3 separate regions of the Homo sapiens genome follow, and all the other regions are linked to region 1. Evidence: fine-mapped expression QTL. A gene starts in region 1. Each other region holds a variant in brackets. All regions are shown on one strand. Distances are from middle to middle. Region 1 holds the start of PCK2 (phosphoenolpyruvate carboxykinase 2, mitochondrial). Region 2 holds the start of EMC9 (ER membrane protein complex subunit 9). Region 3 overlaps CARMIL3 (capping protein regulator and myosin 1 linker 3).

Region 1 (7,470 bases):
GGAAGGCAACAATGAAATAAGAGTCAGATTAGAGGACTAATGCCGTAACCAAGTTGAGCCTGAGGAATATTTGCAACTGGAAGCACACTCTGAGACAGAAACTTGTGTGCAGGTGGTTTACTCGGGGGGGGGGGGGGGGCACGGGGGGGGACTTTCAAAGAAAGAGTAGCAGGACCCAAGAGAGGGAACAGTTGAATGGCACTGCAGTTGTAATCAGCTGAGCCTAAAGAGCTCTGGGGCTGGGATGGACCTTCAGAGTTGTCCCAAACTGAGACAAAGGGCTAGGCCTCTGTACTTTATAACAACCATTCATTGGATACATACTGCCCCCAGGAAGCGGGCATTGCATTTGGTGAGACAGCTCCCTTTGGCCACAGATAGTGCTCAAGGAAGTACTCAGCTGTGAGCTATCAGCAGCCAACACTCAGCAGCTGGAACAATGAGCATCATGATCCTGAAGCGGGAATCTGGGCTACACACCACAGCATCACTACTCGGGCTGTGAGACTTCAGGGATGAACCCAGAGGCCCCAGAGAGGACAATGCAGATCACACTCTGCCCCCTGGTGGTACTCCTTGGACATAGGGCCAGCTGGTGGGCCAGGCTCTCCCGGCAGGGAACTAAAGAAAAGTGTGTGGCAGATAAGGGGAAATGAGCAGTGCAAGGAAATCTGCACGTGAGCCCCTTGCTCCATCTGCCTAAAGCTAGAGAAGAAAGTAATGGTGGGGAAGAAGAATTCAGAAACGTGGCACTCATTCATTCTTTTATTCAACCAACTTTTATTAAGTGCCTGTTATAGGCCAGGTACTGCTGGGAACTAGGAGAAAAACAAGACTGAAATCATCACTCTAGTGAGGATTACAGAGATATAAAAGTAACTACAGTATAGTAAAGTACAAAAATATAGGCATATACATGGGATAGAAGCAACACAGATGAAATAGATGTTCATTCTAAGGGACGAACAGAAAAGGCCTGTGTGTGTGTGTGTGTGTGTGTGTGTGTGTGTGTGTGTGTGTGTGTTAGAGACAGAGTCTCACTGTGTTGCCCAGGCTGGAGTGCAGTGGTGCGATCTCGGCTCACTGCAACCTCCGCCTCCCGGGTTCAAGCGATTCTCCTGCCTCAGCCTCCTGAGTAGCTGGGACTACCGGCGTGCGCCACCACACCAAGCTAATTTTTGTATTTTTAGTAGAGACGGGGTTTCACCATGTTGGCCAGGATGGTGTGTGTTTAATTTGAGTGCAGATGCCCAGAAAAAGTTCACAGAAGTGCTCTGGAAACTTCAGAGTTCAGTACGTAGGAGAAAAGGAGGCAAGTGGGGATGTGGGGGTGACAACATTAGATAAATAGGAGTCAGATTATGAAGGACATAAGATATCATGTGATGGAAAGAGCCTGGAAGAGATTTTAAGCTTAAGAGTGATATGATCTAATTTTTAATGGTAAATCAAGGGGACAGTATAGGATTTATAGGGAGAGGGGGACTTGGTAATTAGAGTCAGAAAGATATGGATTCAGATTCCATTTCTCCTGCTAACCATTTGTGTGACTTTGAGCAAATGACTCTTTTTTTTTTCAATATACACAAAGCAATTTTATTTGTATGTACTTGTGGTAAACAATTAGAACATTTCATTCATAATAGGATAAAAGTATAAAATATTCATGAATAATTTTTTTTCAGAACAGGAATGGAAGTTTATTAAAAAGCTTTAGAGCAGGAATGAAAGAAAGGAAAGTACACTTGGAAGAGGCCCAAGCAGGCATCTTGGAGGTCAAGTGCGGCATTTGACCTTTGATTTAGGGTGTTATATGTTGGCATACTTCTGGGGTCCTGCCTCCCTTTTTCCTTGATTCTTCCCTTAGGGTGACCGAGCAAATGACTCTTTAAGCCCGTGTCCACATATGTAAAATATAGTTGTGAAACAGAATGAGATTATGCATGCAGAGTTGCTGACACAGAGCCTGGCACCTACTGTCCATAGCATAAACATTATTCTTCTCTCTTAACTTTCCAAGTGGATTTGCATGCACAGTGTGGGGAGTGGCTTGGTAGGGAGAGGGGTTGGTGTTTGGAGAGGCAGGAGTCCAAGAAGTGCCTTAGAAGCTATCACCTGAAGCCAGGTGAGAGATAAGCCCTGAACTAAGGCCCTGGCCATGGGGATAGTTGCAGACTTGAGGGCTAATTGAGAAGTACAATTCCAAAGGTCCTGGCATCTGATTAGCTATGCAGGATAAGAATAGTCTAGACTGATTCCCTTTGGGGCAACTGGCCAGATGATGGTGCCATTTGCTGAGGTAGGAAACCATGAGAGCAGGTGCAGGATTATGGAGAAGATGATGACCTTCAGGTCAACCATGCTGCCACCAGTGTGCACACCTTTAGGCCCAAAGGTTGGCCAAGAGGTATGTGTTTGCAGCTGGGTAAGTGTGGACAGAGTTTGGATCTATGAACTGGGGGGAAAGAGATCCAAATACATATACCTGAGGTTGAGTGTAGGCTAGAGCCTGAGGGGGAAGAGACGGGGACCAGTAGCAAGCCCGTGGCTGGAGACCAGCTCTCCTTATCCCACTATGTTCCAGCATAGAACTCCAAGAAATCTGAGAATCAAGACTGTTTCTGTTGCAAGTGGCAGAACTCCAATTAAAATTAGCTTGAGCAAGAGAAGAAATGCATCAATTCCTGTAACTGAAATCAGGAATCCATTGCTCGCCATCTCCCTGCTCTGCTTCCTCTAGGCTGGCTTCTGTCTCAGCCAGGTTCCTGCTTTGCAGTGCCAAGCTAACACTCAGCAGCTCCAGGCTTATATTCTACCAGCTCAGCAACTCAGCAGAAAGAGAGCTAACTTCCAAAGTTTTAGAAAAAGTCCCAGAGAGGGATCTCATGCCCATCCTTGAACATCCTTGATTGCTGTGGCCAGAGTGAGGAACACAAAAGTTGGCTAAGCTGCAAGCCTACCCCCAAGAGGGGTGACATCAGACCCACATGACAATACAGACTGAGGAGATGGTTCCCCAAAAGAAAATCAGGGTGCTATTACCAGAAAAGGCGAGTGGATGCTGAGCAGACACCCATCATAGATATGCTGAGTTTGAGGTGCTATATAGCATTGTGGGTGATATCCAGTGGTCTCAGGTTGGAGAGAGATGTCCCAATGGAGGTATAGCTTGAGAAATCACCTGAGGACTTTATGATGGTAGTTGGGTGGGCAGATGAGTTTCCTCATTGGATTGTGGAGAGAAAGAATGACCAGGCCGGGCGTGGTGGCTCACGCCTGTAAATTCCAGCACTTTGGGAGGCCAAGGCAGGCGGATCACGAGGTCAGGAGTTGGAGACCAGCTTGGCCAGCATGGAGAAACCCCGTCTTTACAAAAAATACAAAAAATCAGCCGAGTGTGGTGGCAGGCGCCTGTAATTCCAGCTACTCTGCAGGTTGAGACAGGAGAATTGCTTGAACCCGGGAGGCGGAGTGTGCAGTGAGCCGAGATCGCGCCACTGCACGCACTCCAGCCTGGGTGACAGAGTAAGACTCCGTCAGGGGAAGAGGGGATGTGCCGGGGGAGGAGAATGACCAGATCAGAGGACCAAGGAAGAGACCCAGGGGTAGAGAGACTCCACCATTTCATGGCAAGGCAGAAAGGAGCCTTGATCAGGAGGAGAAACGGGGATTTAGGAGTTGGGGACTAAGTGGACCTTAGCATTGGGCACTTGGACTACAGAAAGGCCCAGGACTCAGGGTGTCGCGTCCCCAGGAGGAGGAACTGGAAAGGCAATGCCCAACCCCCTAACTTCTAGACGTCTGGCCCCTGTAGTCTCCCGCCCCTGGCCTCGCCCCTCGTTCCTAGCTTGTTTGCCACCTAGTGTCTCTCCCGGGAGCAAGAGTCCTCAAAGTTACATCATGTGCGGCTGGGAGGGCGGTGGCGGATGGGGGGCGGGGCCTCGAAGTCGGGGGCCGAAGAGTGGACCCAGTCCTCCAATGGGAGAGATGGGTTTGGCGGTTTGGAGGCAGGGGTTGGGGCGGCGGCTGGGCTGACCTGGAGCCTGGAGCCCCGGGGCCGAGGGAGCTGGCCTGCCAGCGGGGCGGAGGAAAGCTAGTGCCAGCCCTACCAGGTTCCGCCCCCGCGCCTGCCCCCCTCCTTTTTAAGCGCCTCCCGCCAGCCTCTGCTGTGGCTCGCTTCGCCGCGCTCCCTCCTTCCCCGCCTTCCATACCTCCCCGGCTCCGCTCGGTTCCTGGCCACCCCGCAGCCCCTGCCCAGGTGCCATGGCCGCATTGTACCGCCCTGGCCTGCGGTGAGTGACCCCCGGCCCGGGGCCCACCCGCACCTTCCGCTGCGCTCGCCCCCTCGGGGCTGCCAGTGGCGCTCTCCTGCTCTCAGCCTCCGCCAGGTTTCCCATCCTAGGCGGAGGCGGGCAGGGGCGACTGCTGTGGGTCCAGCCTCCCGCGCCGCGCGTCTCTTGGGAGGGCAGCCGGCCGGTGCTCCTCGTTTCCGCCTGCACCTCCCCTTCTCTGCCTCGCTCGCCTCTGACCGCGCGATCTCTATCTGCCACTCTCAGAACTTCCTCTCTCTCCTCGCTCCTCTCTGCTGAGCCAGGTCTCCGCATATCCTCCTTTCCTTCCCAGATACCTCCCTCGGACCTCTAACGGGCTCTCAGCCAGCGCCCCAGGGTACTTCGAGAGGCAGCAGGGCCCTGGGGACAAGGGTACGTGAGCCCCGGGAGACTAAGCTCAGAGCCCCCTAAAGAAGGTGGAAGGTTAAATATCCATTCCCGGCCTCTCCCGGACTGGAAGGACTGGAACCTGGCGGGAAGTCCAGAGCAGCCCGAGGGACCTGGGCCCAGGGGAGGGAGGCAAGCAAGGTGGGAGGAGGGCGCCAAGTTGCCTTCGTTTCTTACATAGCTGGCTTCTTCCTCCGTCCAGGCCTGGAGCCCCCAGGCTCGTCCTGTTTGTCTGCCTGTCCTCTTAGTCTCCTATTTATTCTCTGAGGCCTCTCTTCTCAGCTTTTGTCCCAGAGTCGGAAGTGACCCACATCTGTCGCACAGCCCGTTCCACTTGGGCAGCCCTTGTGGGTGGTCTCTGAAGGAAACGTCCCACTTAGAGGGCTGCAAGAGGGTGTGGGGGCTTCACAAGAGATAACGTGAGCCAGGCTCCAGGGAGAGAGAGGCTGTCCTCAAGACTGTGTGCTTGAAAACTGATGCTCACGGAGAACTTCCCTCTGAGGCAGGAACAGACCCAGGTCCCAGTAGCCCTCCTCCCCTGCCCCTGGGGCCACACTGATCATCTATCCTGCTTTAGCGGAAACCACCCCAGCTTCTACCCCAGACAGACTCAAGCTCCCGTATCCATGCTCTGAGCTTTCTTCCTTCCCCAGGCTAACACCCTCTGAGTCTGAGCTGCCAGCAAGCTGCTGTTCCACCCTCCCACCAACACCAAAGCTCTCTAGGCATGTGGCCTCTAGGAAGAAGAGCCAGGGGAAGCACGGGGTCACGTGGTCCTGGGTGTGGGGGCAGTTTCTGATGGGCGAGGCCTTGATAGAGGAGGAGAGTAACATCCCCTTCATGGTCTTTGCTCTCTCGGGTTTACTCCACCTTGAGTCCAGGCCAATCAGAGCAGACGTTGCTTCTCTGTCTCCCAGGGCCATGAGAGGACAGACAACAGGACGCTGACCTCCTGAGAATTAAGCCCATGAACCCCAGCCAGTGACACTCATTCCCCAGTGGTCAACCTTCCGCAGAGTTCAGAAATACTTACCCGAGGGCAACATTTTATGCAACCATTGTTGGTCCAAGTGGGCAGCAGCAGATCAGGGCCTGGAAGCCCAGCATCCAGTCACCTATTCTCTGTGCAAGAGCCCTCATCTAGAAACCTGGCACTGGAAAGACTGTGACCTTTGCTTGGGGCTTTCATAGTCTTACAGCATACACACCAGAAGGAAAGAATAAACACAGCTGCCATTTTAATTTATAAAAAACTATACTTGAAAATGGAAATAAAATGGATGAGGCTTCAAATACCAGACATATGAAATTGTCACCTGGGCCCAACTTCTTGTCTTGACACTTGGGCCAAAGGCCCCTACTCATTTCTTTTTTTTTTTTTTTTTTTTTTTTTTTTGAGACAGAGTCTTGCTCTGTCGCCCAGGTTGGAGTGCAGTGTCCCGATCTCGGCTCACTGCAACCTCCACCTCCCGGGTTCAAGCGATTCTCCTGCCTCAGCCTCCTGAGTAGCTGGGACTAGAGGCACACGCCACCACATCCGGCTAATTTTTATATTTTTAGTAGATGGGGTTTCACCATGTTGCCCAGTATGGTCTTGATCTCCTGACCTCATGATCCACCTGCCTCAGCCTCCCAAAGTGCTGGGATTACAGGCATGAGCCACCGTGCCCAGCCATCTCCCTACTTATTTCTAAACGTTGATTAAACAGTTAAACATGGGCATGGGCTACACAGGCAGTAACATCAGCATGCCTACATGTATACTTCCACACAGCCAGGCATGTGCCTTTTTTGCTCATTTGGCCATATCTGTCCCTCGCTGAGCAGGAGACACCCTCCTCAAGCCTCATAAAGGCTACAAGATACATGTGTCCTGAACACATCCCACACACCAACTGCAACCTGCTCTTCATGGTCCCTGCATGCAGACATGTTTTAGCAGGCTGCAGCCCAAGCTTTCTGTCTCTCCACCACCTGCCTTGTCCACTCTCGATGACAGCAACTAGCTCATTGCCTCTGTTTCTCCTATAGGCTTAACTGGCATGGGCTGAGCCCCTTGGGCTGGCCATCATGCCGTAGCATCCAGACCCTGCGAGTGCTTAGTGGAGATCTGGGCCAGCTTCCCACTGGCATTCGAGATTTTGTAGAGCACAGTGCCCGCCTGTGCCAACCAGAGGGCATCCACATCTGTGATGGAACTGAGGCTGAGAATACTGCCACACTGACCCTGCTGGAGCAGCAGGGCCTCATCCGAAAGCTCCCCAAGTACAATAACTGGTAAGCCTTGGGCTCCACAACCTGCAGGATAGGTGCACTGAGGCCACTTTGGGTTCACCAAGGCAAAATCAACTTAACTAGAACATCCCAATGGAATGAACAAGAATGAGAGCTTTGGGGTAAACAGACCCAGAAACTGGGATTTGCTTACGCCTATAATCCCAGCACTTTGAGAGGCCAAGGCGGGTGGATCACCAGGTGTCGGGAGTTTGGGACCAGCCTGACCAACATGGAGAAACCCCGTCTCTACTGAAAAAAAAAAAAAAAAATACAAAAATTAGCCCAGCATGGCAGCGCATGCCTGTAATCCCAGCTACTTGGGAGGGTGAGGCAGGAGAATCACTTAAACCCAAGAGGCGGAGGTTGCAGTGAGCCAAGATCGCGTCATTGCACTCCAGCCTGGGCAATAAGAGCGAAACTCTGTCTCAAAAAAAAAAAAGAAAGAAACTGGGATTTTTTTTTTTTTTTGAGATGG
Region 2 (7,470 bases), 50 kb after region 1:
CAAAACCCATCCATTTGAGCTGGGCCTCCCAGGTCTCATAGGTGTGGGCGCAGCTGTGGCCTTTCCCTGTAGGTGGCCTGCGGGGATCGGGCCTGCTGGATGCTTGATGCACGACTGCTTGATGCTTGAGTGCTGTGGGAGACAGGTGCTCAGATATTGCTGGTGAGAGTGGAAACCAAAGGTGGTCTTTTTGGAAGGTAATTTGGCATAACCATCCAAATTGAAACTGTATACATACTATACATATGCTGACCCAGAAATTCTACTTATAAAGAATTTATGGTAATCATAGGACAGTGTCTGTAATAAAACACTGGAAACAACCTCAATGTTTAAAGTATTAAATAAATTAGAGTACATTCATATTCAGACTATATAGCTGTTACGGTAGATCTTGGTGTGGAAATGGGATGATGTCAAGTATTTATTAAGTGAGGGAGAAACGCAAATTACAAAACAGTACCTCTAATTGCTCCATGTATATGATTAATATATATATATATATATATATGTCTTTTCCTATATGTATATATATAAGGAAACTGCCTTATTTTTGAAGTTGCTGGTTGGGATTTCTCTGTTCTTTCAGCCCCTGGGGGACACCTCAGTTAAAGCAAGATCAGTCTGTTGGCCGAGAGTGGTGGCTCACGCCTGTAATCCCAGCACTTTGGGAGTCCGAGGCGCGTGGATCACCTGAGGTCAAGTTCTAGACCAGCCTGGCCAACATGGCGAAACCCCATCTCTACTAAAAATAAAAAATAATAATAAATTAAAAAAATAAAAAAAATTAGCCGGGCATGGTGGCGCTCATCTGTGATCCCAGCTACTCGGGAGGCTGAGGCAGGAGAATCGCTTGAATCTAGGAGGTGGAAGTTCCAGTGAGCCGAGATTGCGCCACTGCACTCCAGCCTGGGAGACAGAGGGAGACTCCGTCTCAAAAAAAAAAAAAAAATCAGTCTGTTGATACACAGTTGTCCTCCCCGCCCCAACGGCACTCCAGGGCAGGGCTCTGTCCTATTCATCTTTATATTCCCTCACTCCAGTACCCAGCATAGTGCCTGGTGTAAAGCCCCTGCTCCTAAGCGTTTGATGAAGGAAAGATAAAAGGAACGACCTTGGTTCATCTTGTGCGCCCCCGCCCCGCCCACCGCCCCACGCATCCTCGCCCTCTATTCCTCCAATCCCCAACCCGCCATAATCCTTTCCTTCTTCCTCTGGCTACGCCACTCACCTCTGATCGTTCACAGCTGCATTGGCATGGTAGTAACCAGCCACCACCAGACCGGCCTGTGCTCCCCACACATCCACCTGTCGTAGGAAAGGGGCCATCAGTAATTAAATTGTGCCGCTGGCTTTGTGGATGCGCACTGCTGCCAAGGGACCGGGGATGAACTTGGGCTGGGGTGTTGGGTGGGTTCGCGGTGGGGGATGGGCATCCAACGGAGGCACCTGGTTGAGGGCGACCTCCAACATGACGGACAGGGCCAGGTGGCTGTGGAAGAGGGGCACACAGTCGGTGAGGCACAGGCATTCTCCAGACCGCGGCGCTGGCGCCAAAAACAGCCCGTTGACTGCGGCGTGTGGGTACCGGGCAGCATGCAGGCACATCTTCACGTAGGCCAGGGCCGAGATCTCCACCTCCCCCATGGCGAGCGAGGCCTGGACGGGAAGCAGCAAGCCGGATTAGTACCGGATTAGGCGAGCCGGTGCCTAGCTCGCGTCCGTGAAGCTCCCTCCAGCGCTTCGGCACGCTCTTTGACCCTTCCCCGTGCCCTCTCACTTCGGTTCGGCGACAACGCTAACTCGACTCGCAGGTAGCCCGCCGGCTCCCGGCGCCCTGGGTCCCGGAGTCCGCCCCCGGCCCAGTCCAGGAGGAGGTCCCGATTGCATCCGAGCCCCGCCTTCCCGCGCCCCTAGCTGGCGGCCGCGACTCTGCGCCTGCCTGGGAGACAGACCAAACTGCAGCTCCCTGCAGAACTGGCTCCTGGAGTCCCGCCCACGTGGTGCTCCTTGATAGGGCTAAAGGCTTTCAATTTGTCCAATCAGCGGCCGCGCCCCAACGTTGCCCCGCCTTTGTCTCCAGCGGACTGGAAAGAACCCACCATTGTGAAGCACAGAAAATTGCCCGCACTCTTATTGGCTAGGTTCCCCGACTTCCGCTCTCGGTTGGTGGTTGGCTTTGCCTGTTACCTGTGTTGCCCACTACCACTCGCTCCGCCGAGCCCCAAGGATGGATCGCTATCCCGTAGCCGGGTGTTCCGGAGCGCTGCGGGCAAAGCAGACCGCCTTGCGCCTATTATGGGTTGAGTGGCTCTGTACTCTAGATCGGCTCTGTCACTTACTAATGGGCCGTGTTGCCTTCGCGACTGCAGGTTTTCTTGCCCTTGGTTTATCTTTTGCCCGTGTTCCTTTAAGGATTTAATGAGATATGTATGGGGGCAGGCTTCCAGCCAGTCTAGTGCTTCGCAGCACATTCTTATCTCATATTTTATGACAGGATAAGGCCCTGAATTAAAGAACAATCCCATGGAGTTTACAGCAAGATCACAGCAAAGGAACCCTTGTCTCTATCACCAGCCCAGGGCTGAATCTTGAAAAGCAGAGATAAAGACAGTGATTGGCTGAAGGGGATATGGGGGAGGACAGTAAGAAAAACTTACAGATTCATCCTTCCCATAATGTCCTGCGATGTATTTCCTTCACCACAGTGCCTTGGAAGCATTATTTTTTCCCCTCCTAGCCCTTAAGGAGGGAGTCCAGGCCCGGCGCGGTGGCTCACGCCTTGTAATCCCAGCACTTTGGGAGGCCGAGGTGGGTGGATCGCCTGAGGTCAGGAGTTCGAGACCAGCCTGGCCAACATGGCGAAACCCCGTCTCTATTAAAAATACAAAAAAATTAGCCAGGTGTGGTGGCACATGCCTGTAATTCCAGCTACTCGGGAGGCTGAGGCAGGAGAATTGCTTGAACCCGGGAGACGGAGGTAGCAGTAAGCTGAGATCGTGCCATTGCACTCCAGCCTGGGCAACAGAGCAAGACTCCATCTCAAAAAAAAAAAAAAAAGGGTGGGGGGAGTCCAATCATTCATCCGTAGTTCTCCATAGTTCTCCCAGTGAAACCTTATTCTCCTTCTAGGCTTTTCCTGAACTGATGAGGATTCTTTCTTTCTTCATTCCTGATGTTGACCACAGAACTTTCCCCTTGTGTATCCAAAGCCTGATTATTCCCATAAGGGCTCTGTGCAAATGCCATCTCTTCCAATAATTCCTGAGACCTCTGGATGAAAATAATACTGTTACATTCCAAAATACAGGTTATCTGCATGGCTGCCATGGCATGTAACAATCCCCACCCTAGGCACTCAGGGTGAAGGACTTGGACTATAAACCCAATGGAGAAGATAGCCCTTCAACCTCTGTGACTTTTCTAAAGCTACTTTCCCCCCTTTTTGCCTTAGATGGAAACAGATAAGCAGGAGAAGAAAGAAGGTAAGTGAGATAAGAGGTGACTAGGGAAGGGGAGATGGCACATTGACTACTGGATGAGAAAGGGCCTGAATCCCCTCTTTCTCACAGTCAAGATTACA[G/A]TGGGCATCTAAGTCATCTTTGTCTTTGTGACACCCACCCCTTCCCACCACATTCATCTTCAGGCTGGACATAGGTGCCACTCAATAAATGCTTTTTGAATGAATGACACACGCCAGAAGGGAATCCACACAACATATAGATCATTTATTTTCCTTCTAGTCCCGGGTTCAGTACATAGATGGCTTTTCTTCACCCTTTGGGTTGACAATTTTCTCCAGGTTGCTGCTGATGATATGATAAAGCTCAGCCTGGGAGAAGGCCAGAGTGCAAGAGTCAGGTTCTTAGCCAATCCCCTGCCTGCCCCCACTCATCCACCTCCCCTAAAGCCTTACTCCACACTCACATAGAAGGCCCTCAGGTCCAGCACCATGGCCCTGAGCTCCCCATAGGCTGCCTCATCTCGCTCATGCACCAAGGCCCGGTAATCCATCTGCAATGTGGGAGGCAAAGCTGAGTCAGTCCCATGGGAGGCTGGGACATGAGTCTGGTTTCCTTTTATAGGAAATAGGTTAACTTGAGAATGAACCCCTTCTTAGCACCAAGAAATAGGATCCCAAAGGACTGAGCAGAGAAAAGGGTCAAGGTTGTTGAAGCCCAAACCAGTTTTTCTAGGTAATGCTTTTAGCTTAATATTCTCCACATTGGGAAAGTCACAAACAAGACAAGGAGGACTTCTTCCTCCACACCTCCTCGTCCCACACCCAGCTAAAAGGCTGGTGGACTATCCACTCACTACATGAGTCTCCTTGGAGGCCTTGGCCACAGCATCCCCACGTTCTGAGAAGTACCTGCCAGAAGCAAGGGAATACCACAGGAATGAGTGTTCAGGGAGATGTACTCCCTCAGACCCTTCCCAAAGTCTCCCATCATCCTGATAGGGCTGCCCAGCTCTGGGGGTCCCAAAGAAATGCTCCTACTGCCCCCAATGCTGGTCCTCCAGCTGCCCTCACTTGGAAATGGTTGTCTGGAAAGCTTCCACTTTGGTCTTGACGGCATTCACCCTCTCCAGCACCTTCTCCTGTGGTGACACGGGAGGCAAAGACAACACTTCATGTCCTCCCCATTTCATACACTATCTTCCTCCTCCTCCTGGTTCATGTCTAGCTCACCCCCTGAGGCTCTCCCCACTCTAAGTATCTTCAGTTACCCTTTTCTTACCTGGATTGCTACCCCAAAATCATTTCCATCTTCAATCTTGGGGATCAGGTGTTGGATCCATGTAATCACCTGTGTTAAGAGGTATCATGTAAGAATCATTCAACAAACATACTGAGTTCTTCCTATTACTGTCACTTCCTAAAAAAAGTTATATTTAATTGGGTACTTATTACATACCAGGTACTGTGCCATGTATTTATTTCATGTAATCATCACAGCAACCTTCAGAGATATGTATTTATTGTACCCATTTAACAGATGAAAAAACTGAGTCACAGAATGTCTAAGTGACTTACTTAAGGCTACCAGCTAGGTAACTGATAGAATCACGATTTGAACCTAAGCAGTCTCTCTCTAGGGTCCAATCTTTTAAAACAATTCACTCACTATATCATACCACCTCTACTATGAACCCAATACAGCAGTAGGTTCTGAGGTTACAGAGTGGATACTGCACAGTCTCTAATTTTGGGGGTACCGTTGTGATAAGAGAGGTCTAACAGAACGAGGAGAACAAAGGGGATCTAAGCCCAAGGCACAGAAGGAAGTTTTCTTTTTCAGGACTAGGTCTCTGTATGAAGGACTTGTATCTACGGAGGAGTCCAGGGCCTCACCTTGTGTGTCTTCTCTTTCTGCTTCCCCCATTTCCCAGGCTTACCAGAATGCATTTCTCTTTGAGAGTCCAGACTTCTGGCTTAACCAGGGCAAGCAGGGACAGGACTTTCTCATTCCCAGGGAGAAATCCACACTTATGGACTGTGAGAAAGAGGGGATTCAGGCCCTTTCTCATCCAGTAGTCAGTGTGCCATCACCCCTTCCCTAGTCACCTCTTATCTCTCTTACCTTCTTTCTTCTCCTGCTTATCTGTTTCCATCTAAGGCAAAAAGGGGGGAAAGTAGCTTTAGAAAAGTCACAGAGGTTGAAGGGCTATCTTCTCCATTGGGTTTATAGTCCAAGTCCTGCACCCTGAGTGCCTCACCTCATCATCCTTGGGTGGAGGGTCTGGGATGGGGATGTCCAGTGGGGCCCGGAGGGAAGTCAAGTCAGCCACATTGAGGGAGTCCTCCTGCACAGAGCTCACTGTCAAGGGCTGCCCAACCTCTTCCCTTCATCCTAGGTCACAGCCTTCCCTCCATACATCCCACTTGCACTCTGCCTCCCAACCTAGGCTCATGCCTCACGCCATCCTAATGTTCCTAATCCACTATTTGAAACTATTCTCTGCATGCTGAATCCAGTTGTTAGCTAGAGAGGGTGGGCAAAGGGGATAGAGGACATAGGATGGGGCAGAAGGGGCCCACACTACTCACTTGCAAGAGCTGATTCAGGTATATGATTTTCTGTGGCAAGAATCTGTAGAGGAATTCCTCAGCCTGTGGGTTACATTGCAAGGGAGGGGAATCACAGAATATGCTCAATGAGATGTCTGACAAATGGAACTGGAAGGGCCTTTGGAAATCACTGGGTCCAAGACTTGCAAATGAGGAAACTGAAGACCTGAAAATGAAAGGACTTGCCCAAGCTGGTAAATGGCAGAACGAAGGTTAGGACTGTGATATTCCTGCTTTGGAAGCCATGGTTTTTTTCCTCCACATCAAAAGACGGGAGAAGTGCCAGAAGTCGGGAGAGTCATAAGAAAGGTCAGATTAAAGGTAGCTATCAATAATTCCGGGGTTACTTTGGGTGAAGGCTTGGTAAGGGAAGTAGGGTTAAGTCTAGGGTGACTTGGGGGGGTCATTCTGAGAGGCTGTTATCCTCAAGTATTGGTCCAAGATTCTGGGTCAAATCGCTCAAATCCAGAGACTTACCTCCTGGAAAAGATTCTGTCTGAAGACCTCCACCTACACAGAGAGCAGTACCCGGATGTTGGTTAAGGGTCTGGGTTGTCAAAAGCTTCCACCCACAACAGGGTGCCCTCGAACTGTGGCTCAGGCCTTTCTCACCACAAACTAGCTTTCCCTGGAAGCTCCTGCTCACTGCAGTCAGAAGGCAGGAATCTGGGAATCCCCGAGAAGTGAAGGCACTAGCGAGATTGGGGGAGTTCTCTGGCACTGCTTGGTCCCCTGAACCACCCAGCTTGGCCTCCACCCAAGAGGGTTCTATGACCCCTTCCTGGCCTCCGATTCCCCATTACCTGTTTGCGGGCTTCCCCGCTCAGGCGCACCCCACACGGCTTGGCCATGCTGCTTCAGTCGCTAGATCTCTGGTCTCCCGGCTAGTCGCCCGGGCTTTCGCTTTCACTCCCCAGGTCCAGGCCCGCCCCCCTCAACCCCGCCCCCTTTCTTCTTTCCGCCCCCCTCCTCCCGCTGGCAGGCCGCAAGCAGTAGGTAGCCCCTCAGCCATTCCCAGCCAGTTGCCACTAGGAGAGGCGGTGCTGGCTGGGTCACAGTCCAGGGGCTGCCCGAGGGAGGGGCTAGGGTAAGTGGGACCGCGGAGACTGGAGCGGGGGCTGTCCCTCGGAGAGGGGCGGGGCTTATAGCTAGGGCCAACTGGAAGTCCAGGGTTGGGGTAAGAGAGGTGGGAGTATGGCAAAGGGGGTATTCAGTGGCGGGGCTCCCCCAAGAAGGCTCGACCGCAAGTAGCGGACGGAGAGAGATCAGAGCGAGTGGGAGGGGCAGCCAGAGGGAGCGCCTGGGGTGGAGAAGGACTAGCAGCTCTTAGAAGAGAGCGGGCAGGGGTTGGGTGAGGGTCTTCCCTCTGCCTTCAGGACAGACCGGAGATGGGGCGG
Region 3 (5,000 bases), 35 kb before region 1:
TGCCCCCAGGTACTCCGGAGTGGTGACAAGCTCCCTGGCAGGCCCTGAGCTGTTCCCCTGTTGTGGGGGCCTCTGACCATGCAGCCCCAGCCAGGCAGTCAGGTAGAGGAGGAGGGGAAGCCCAGAGGCTGGGACCTGGGGCTCAGCTCAGGACAAATCCTTCCTCCCCTTCCCTGAAGGGACTTTGTCCAGAAGCTGGCCGGGGTGTTTGGGGAGAACGGGAGCTGTGTGCTGCATGCCCTCACTCTGTCCCACAACCCCATCGAGGACAAGGGTGAGCCCCAGCCCTGAATCCTGTCCCCATCCCAATGCAGACCCCTGTCCTAGCCCAGAGCCCAACCAGGTCTGAACAGCAGCTCTCCAGCCTGATTCCAGCCCCTGCCCTGACACCTCCATCCTTGACCCAAGGCCTGTACCCTACTCGAGCCCCCAACCTGACTCTGTGCCACCTGCACCCACTGCCCTGCCCCTCACTGGGCCCGTTTCTCTCTCCACTCCCCAGGTTTTCTCAGTCTGAGCCAGCAGCTCCTCTGCTTCCCCTCTGGCCTCACCAAACTGTGCCTGGCCAAGACTGCCATTTCCCCTCGAGGTACTCGCACCAAGGACCCCTGACCTCTGACCCTACCCTGGTGCTGCCTGGGGTGTTGAGCTCCAGAGGTACACCCACACATTCACACACCACCTCAGGGATGGAAGAGTGAAAAGGAGCCACGTTTGGGGAGAGGGGAAGAGTTATGTGCTGAGGGGAAGAGGTGGGGCTAGGGGCCAACCCAGCCCAGTGCCCGCTGTGCTCAGGGCTCCAGGCACTCGGCCAGACCTTCGGGGCAAACCCAGCATTTGCCAGCTCCCTTCGATACCTGGACCTGAGCAAGAATCCTGGGCTCCTCGCCACGGATGAGGCCAATGTGAGTCCTCAGAACAGCCTCAGCCCCCTGCAGAAAGCATGCTTAAGCTTCAGGAGCTGGGAGGCCTTCTGCCCCATGGCCTCTGGGGGTGGCGAGACTCCATCATCCCTTCCCCTGCAACCCCTCTTCCTTCCTACTCCAGGCCCTCTACAGTTTCCTGGCCCAACCCAACGCCCTGGTGCACCTGGACCTGTCAGGAACTGACTGCGTCATCGACTTGGTGAGGAGTTGGTGATGGGAAGCCAGTCTGAGGTGATTTGGGGAAGACCACAGTGGGCCTCGGTCTCACCCCCTATCCCTGAGTACACAGGCGGGCAGAGCTGTCTAGATGACTTCAGGTTCAGCTGAAGTATAAAGCAATGTCCATAGTTCATACCTGTGTGGCACTTTATCCAGGTCACAAGCTTGTGCTTGCTGTGCTTAAAAGCCAGCCCTTGCTCCCTTCCCCAGCTGTGCACCCTGGCTCCACCAGGGGAATGGATGCTTTTCCTAACTTGAACAAGGCACCTTAGGAGTCAGTGGTGGCCCTGGCTTTACACATCCACTGCCTGTGAGCAGCTTCATGCCCCTGGAAGCCAGGCAGGGAGTAGACCCATGTTCCACAGGGGAGAAAACAGAGACTTCAAGAATCTGAGTGGGCATCTCCAGTGGAGCTCACACAGGCTGACCACAGAGAATGAAGAGCCAGGAACCTCGATGGGGAGGGAGGGGGAGTCCTTTCCTGCCACCCCCTACCCCCTTCCAGCTCCCCTGAGACCCACCATATCTCCCCCCACAGCTTCTCGGTGCCCTGCTCCACGGCTGCTGCTCCCACCTCACCTACCTCAACCTGGCTCGCAACAGCTGCTCCCACAGGTGGGAGAGGAGGGGGAAGGGAGGACAGGGCAAGACATGGCCAACCCCCTCCCTCGCTGACCCCAGGGGTCTCTCCACAGGAAGGGTCGAGAGGCCCCGCCGGCCTTCAAGCAGTTCTTCAGCAGCGCCTACACACTGAGCCACGTCAATCTGTCGGCCACAAAGCTGCCCCTGGAGGCCCTCAGGTCGGGTGGGTGCAGGGTTGGGGGCGCATCCAAGGGAACCACGGGGAGCGGGAAGAGGTAAAGGAGGGCCTGCTGACCTCCCTCCCACAGGGCGCTGCTTCAGGGCCTCTCCCTCAACAGTCACCTCAGTGACCTGCACCTGGATCTCAGCAGCTGCGAGGTGAGCCCTCAGTCCCCAACCCCTCTGCCCGCCTCCGATCCATGTGCATTTCTCAGACCTAAGTCAAACCCTGGCTCCATCTAGCCTCTGTGCTGACCCTCTGCGACCCCCTGACCTGGCCACACCACCACTTTCCCCTCTCAGTCTGGCCTCTTTTCCAGAGGCCATTCATTCTCAGTCTCTAGTATCTCTGCCCTTAAAGCTTTGGGGTGGGAGATACCAGACTTTTCCACCAGAG[G/A]GCAGGAGCAAGCTGTCTTAGGAATAGCAGCCTTCCTGGCCGAAGGGAGGGAAGCCAGCTCTAGGGAAGGATCTGGTGTGGGGAAAGAGTCTCCCTGATTTTACACCCAGATCCTGGCATGACTTTGAGTTCTGGTGTGACTACTATATCCTAAGCATTAAAGGTGCCCTACCCCCACCCCAACCCCTGCCTTCCCTACCTCACCTTGTCCCTGCAGCTCCGTTCAGCGGGAGCCCAAGCCTTGCAGGAGCAGCTGGGAGCTGTCACCTGTGTAGGCAGCCTGGATCTGTCAGACAATGGTGAGTAGTGGTTCCTCCCTTCCCTGGGGCCAGGGGAGAACAGGGGCCTGGAGCATGCAGAAGCAGCCCTGATGGGACACCAGTCAGCCTCAGGCCTCCAGGCCAGGCCTCTCCCATCTGCTCACCAGGGTTCGACTCGGACCTCCTGACACTGGTGCCTGCACTTGGCAAGAACAAGTCCCTCAAGCACCTGTTTTTGGGCAAGAACTTCAATGTCAAGGCCAAGTGAGGCCCCCTTTCCATGCCCACAGACCCTCATCCCATCATTCACCCATCCTCTTGGCTCACCGTATTACCTCTGGCCACCTCTCTCCTCCTCCAATAGCATGACCCCAGCCCTTCCCCTCCTACTCTGAGCCCCGCCTCCCTGCAGGACCCTGGAGGAGATCCTCCACAAGCTGGTGCAGCTGATCCAGGAAGAGGACTGTGTGAGTGCCTGGGCCTGGGAGGGGACCTGCAGTCGGAGGAGGCTGTGGGGACTGGGTCCAACCGCCCCTTGCCCACACAGTCCCTGCAGTCACTGTCGGTGGCAGACTCCCGGCTGAAGCTTCGCACCAGCATCCTCATCAATGCCCTGGGCAGCAACACCTGCCTGGCCAAGGTGGATCTGAGCGGCAATGGCATGGAGGACATCGGGGCCAAGATGCTGTCTAAGGCCCTGCAGATAAACTCCTCCCTCAGGTGGGGCCCACACCGGGACCCCCTGACCTGGAGCCCCAGCCCCTCCCCATATGTACATAATCTCCCTGCTTTCCTTGATGCTCTGGACCCCAGCTTCCAGAAGACCCCCAGCCCCAGAACCATCTCTGAGTCAGCCTTATTGCCCCAAGAGGTTTGTGTCCCTGGCCCCTAGTAGGGACCCAGGAGGAGAGGTGCCAAACTGGTGCTTACCCTCCCCCCAGAACTATCCTATGGGATCGGAACAATACATCTGCCCTGGGCTTCCTGGACATCGCAAGGGCCCTGGAGAGGTGAGTAGACCATGGTCCTGCCCTGATCCAAGTCCCCAGCCTCCCTGTGCCTGGATCAGGCCTGAACTACTCTTGCCCCACCCTAGCCCCTTTGACCTATTTGCACAGAAATTTTAGGAAGGGCCATGGAAGACAGAAATGATGAGCAAGGGGGCTGGAGGGCTGCTCACCAACAGAGGAGGCAGGGGCCTCCCATCCTCACCTGTTCCCACCCAGCTGTGCCCCTGTGTCCCACAGCAACCACACGCTGCGCTTCATGTCCTTCCCCGTGAGCGACATCTCCCAAGCCTATCGCAGCGCGCCTGAGCGCACCGAGGACGTCTGGCAGAAGGTGCAGGGTGCTGTCCTAAGCAGGGTGGCACAGCAAGGGGCAGGGGGCAGCCCCCATCCCCAGGCCCTGACCCACCAACCCCATCATCTCCAGATCCAATGGTGCTTAGTGAGGAACAACCACTCCCAGACGTGCCCCCAGGAGCAGGCCTTCAGGTTGCAGCAGGGCCTGGTGACCAGCAGCGCCGAGCAAGTAAACGTTTCCCTCTGGGACACGGGGCATACCCGGGGCATGCAGGGCACAGTGTGATGTGATGGAAAATTGAGTGGGGGAGCATGAAGAGGCACTGCATGGTGCCTATCACTGGACTGAGCATGTGGGGAAGCAAAAAGAGAGGACATGCAGGATATGGGCTTCAAACATATGTGGGCGAACAGCAGGAGTGCACAGGACTCTGGGAGCTCAGCTGGGCATTCAAGAAGGCTGTAGCAATGGGGACCAGGCCAGCCAGAGACATCACCTCCACCACTGTCGGTGCCAGCACCAGTAGCACTGTCTAAGGGGTCCTACCTGCGAAGATGTGGAAGCAGGGGTCCCCTTGACACCCCTGCCACTGTGCTCCAGATGCTGCAGCGGCTGTGTGGACGAGTGCAGGAGGAGGTGCGGGCCCTGAGACTATGCCCCCTGGAGCCTGTGCAGGATGAGCTACTCTACGCTCGGGACCTCATCAAAGATGCCAAGAACTCCCGGGCGGTGAGCCCTCCACAGGCTACCCTTCCCCTGAAGTCTGGAGAACCCAAGAAGGCCGACCATGCTAAGCCATGACAGCCCTGCCCTGTGCATCTGCCTTCCTAGCCCAGGGACCCCAGAGACCTAGCAAGTCCTGGTTCTGGCCTGCTAATCATAACCCCTTCCTTCTCCAGCTGTTTCCCAGCCTCTATGAGCTGGGCCACGTGCTGGCCAATGATGGGCCTGTGCGGCAGAGGCTGGAATCAGTAGCAAGTGAGGTGTCCAAAGCTGTGGACAAGGAGCTGCAGGCAAGTCCTGGAGGAGGGAGGAATCCATGGTGGGAACCTAGTGTTGACTGAGGCCCTAAGCCCAGAGCTAAAGTCAGAG

The links. PIP is the estimated chance that this variant, and not a neighbour inherited with it, causes the effect.
Region 2: its variant is fine-mapped to the expression of PCK2 in whole blood (INTERVAL, PIP above 0.99).
Region 3: its variant is fine-mapped to the expression of PCK2 in whole blood (TOPMed, PIP above 0.99). The same link has a PIP of 0.9 or more in blood mononuclear cells, esophagus mucosa, esophagus muscle, gastroesophageal junction, lung and monocytes.

The regions. Positions count from the first base shown.
Region 1 is chr14:24,090,143-24,097,612 of GRCh38, forward strand. It overlaps PCK2 (phosphoenolpyruvate carboxykinase 2, mitochondrial), which reads left to right and starts at 4,169. Exons shown (of 10, transcript NM_004563.4): 1 at 4,169-4,292; 2 at 6,750-6,995. The coding sequence starts at 4,264. The region is part of intron 1 of NRL (neural retina leucine zipper); the gene reads right to left. RefSeq lists enhancers at 273-322, 4,192-4,841, 4,495-4,564 and a silencer at 3,935-4,184.
Region 2 is chr14:24,139,658-24,147,127 of GRCh38, forward strand. It overlaps EMC9 (ER membrane protein complex subunit 9), which reads right to left and starts at 1,934. Exons shown (of 6, transcript NM_016049.4): 1 at 1,781-1,934; 2 at 1,450-1,659; 3 at 1,232-1,308. The coding sequence starts at 1,647. It overlaps PSME2 (proteasome activator subunit 2), which reads right to left and starts at 6,953. Exons shown (of 11, transcript NM_002818.3): 1 at 6,877-6,953; 2 at 6,551-6,583; 3 at 6,053-6,115; 4 at 5,722-5,808; 5 at 5,586-5,616; 6 at 5,401-5,498; 7 at 4,743-4,811; 8 at 4,535-4,602; 9 at 4,318-4,372; 10 at 3,928-4,014; 11 at 3,708-3,832. The coding sequence starts at 6,924. The coding sequence ends at 3,752. MIR7703 (microRNA 7703) reads right to left here and starts at 3,908; the gene lies at 3,832-3,908. It also overlaps a transcript of RNF31 not described here. RefSeq lists silencers at 1,768-1,857, 6,999-7,058 and an enhancer at 7,369-7,438. The variant G/A (reference allele first, on the strand shown) is at 3,584.
Region 3 is chr14:24,056,120-24,061,119 of GRCh38, forward strand. It overlaps CARMIL3 (capping protein regulator and myosin 1 linker 3), which reads left to right. Exons shown (of 40, transcript NM_138360.4): 11 at 180-274; 12 at 503-589; 13 at 796-905; 14 at 1,048-1,125; 15 at 1,684-1,760; 16 at 1,841-1,945; 17 at 2,036-2,105; 18 at 2,561-2,642; 19 at 2,771-2,867; 20 at 3,016-3,070; 21 at 3,151-3,323; 22 at 3,545-3,613; 23 at 3,851-3,944; 24 at 4,038-4,136; 2 more. Among named protein-coding and RNA genes, the nearest start is that of CARMIL3, 6.6 kb to the left of the region's middle. The variant G/A (reference allele first, on the strand shown) is at 2,344.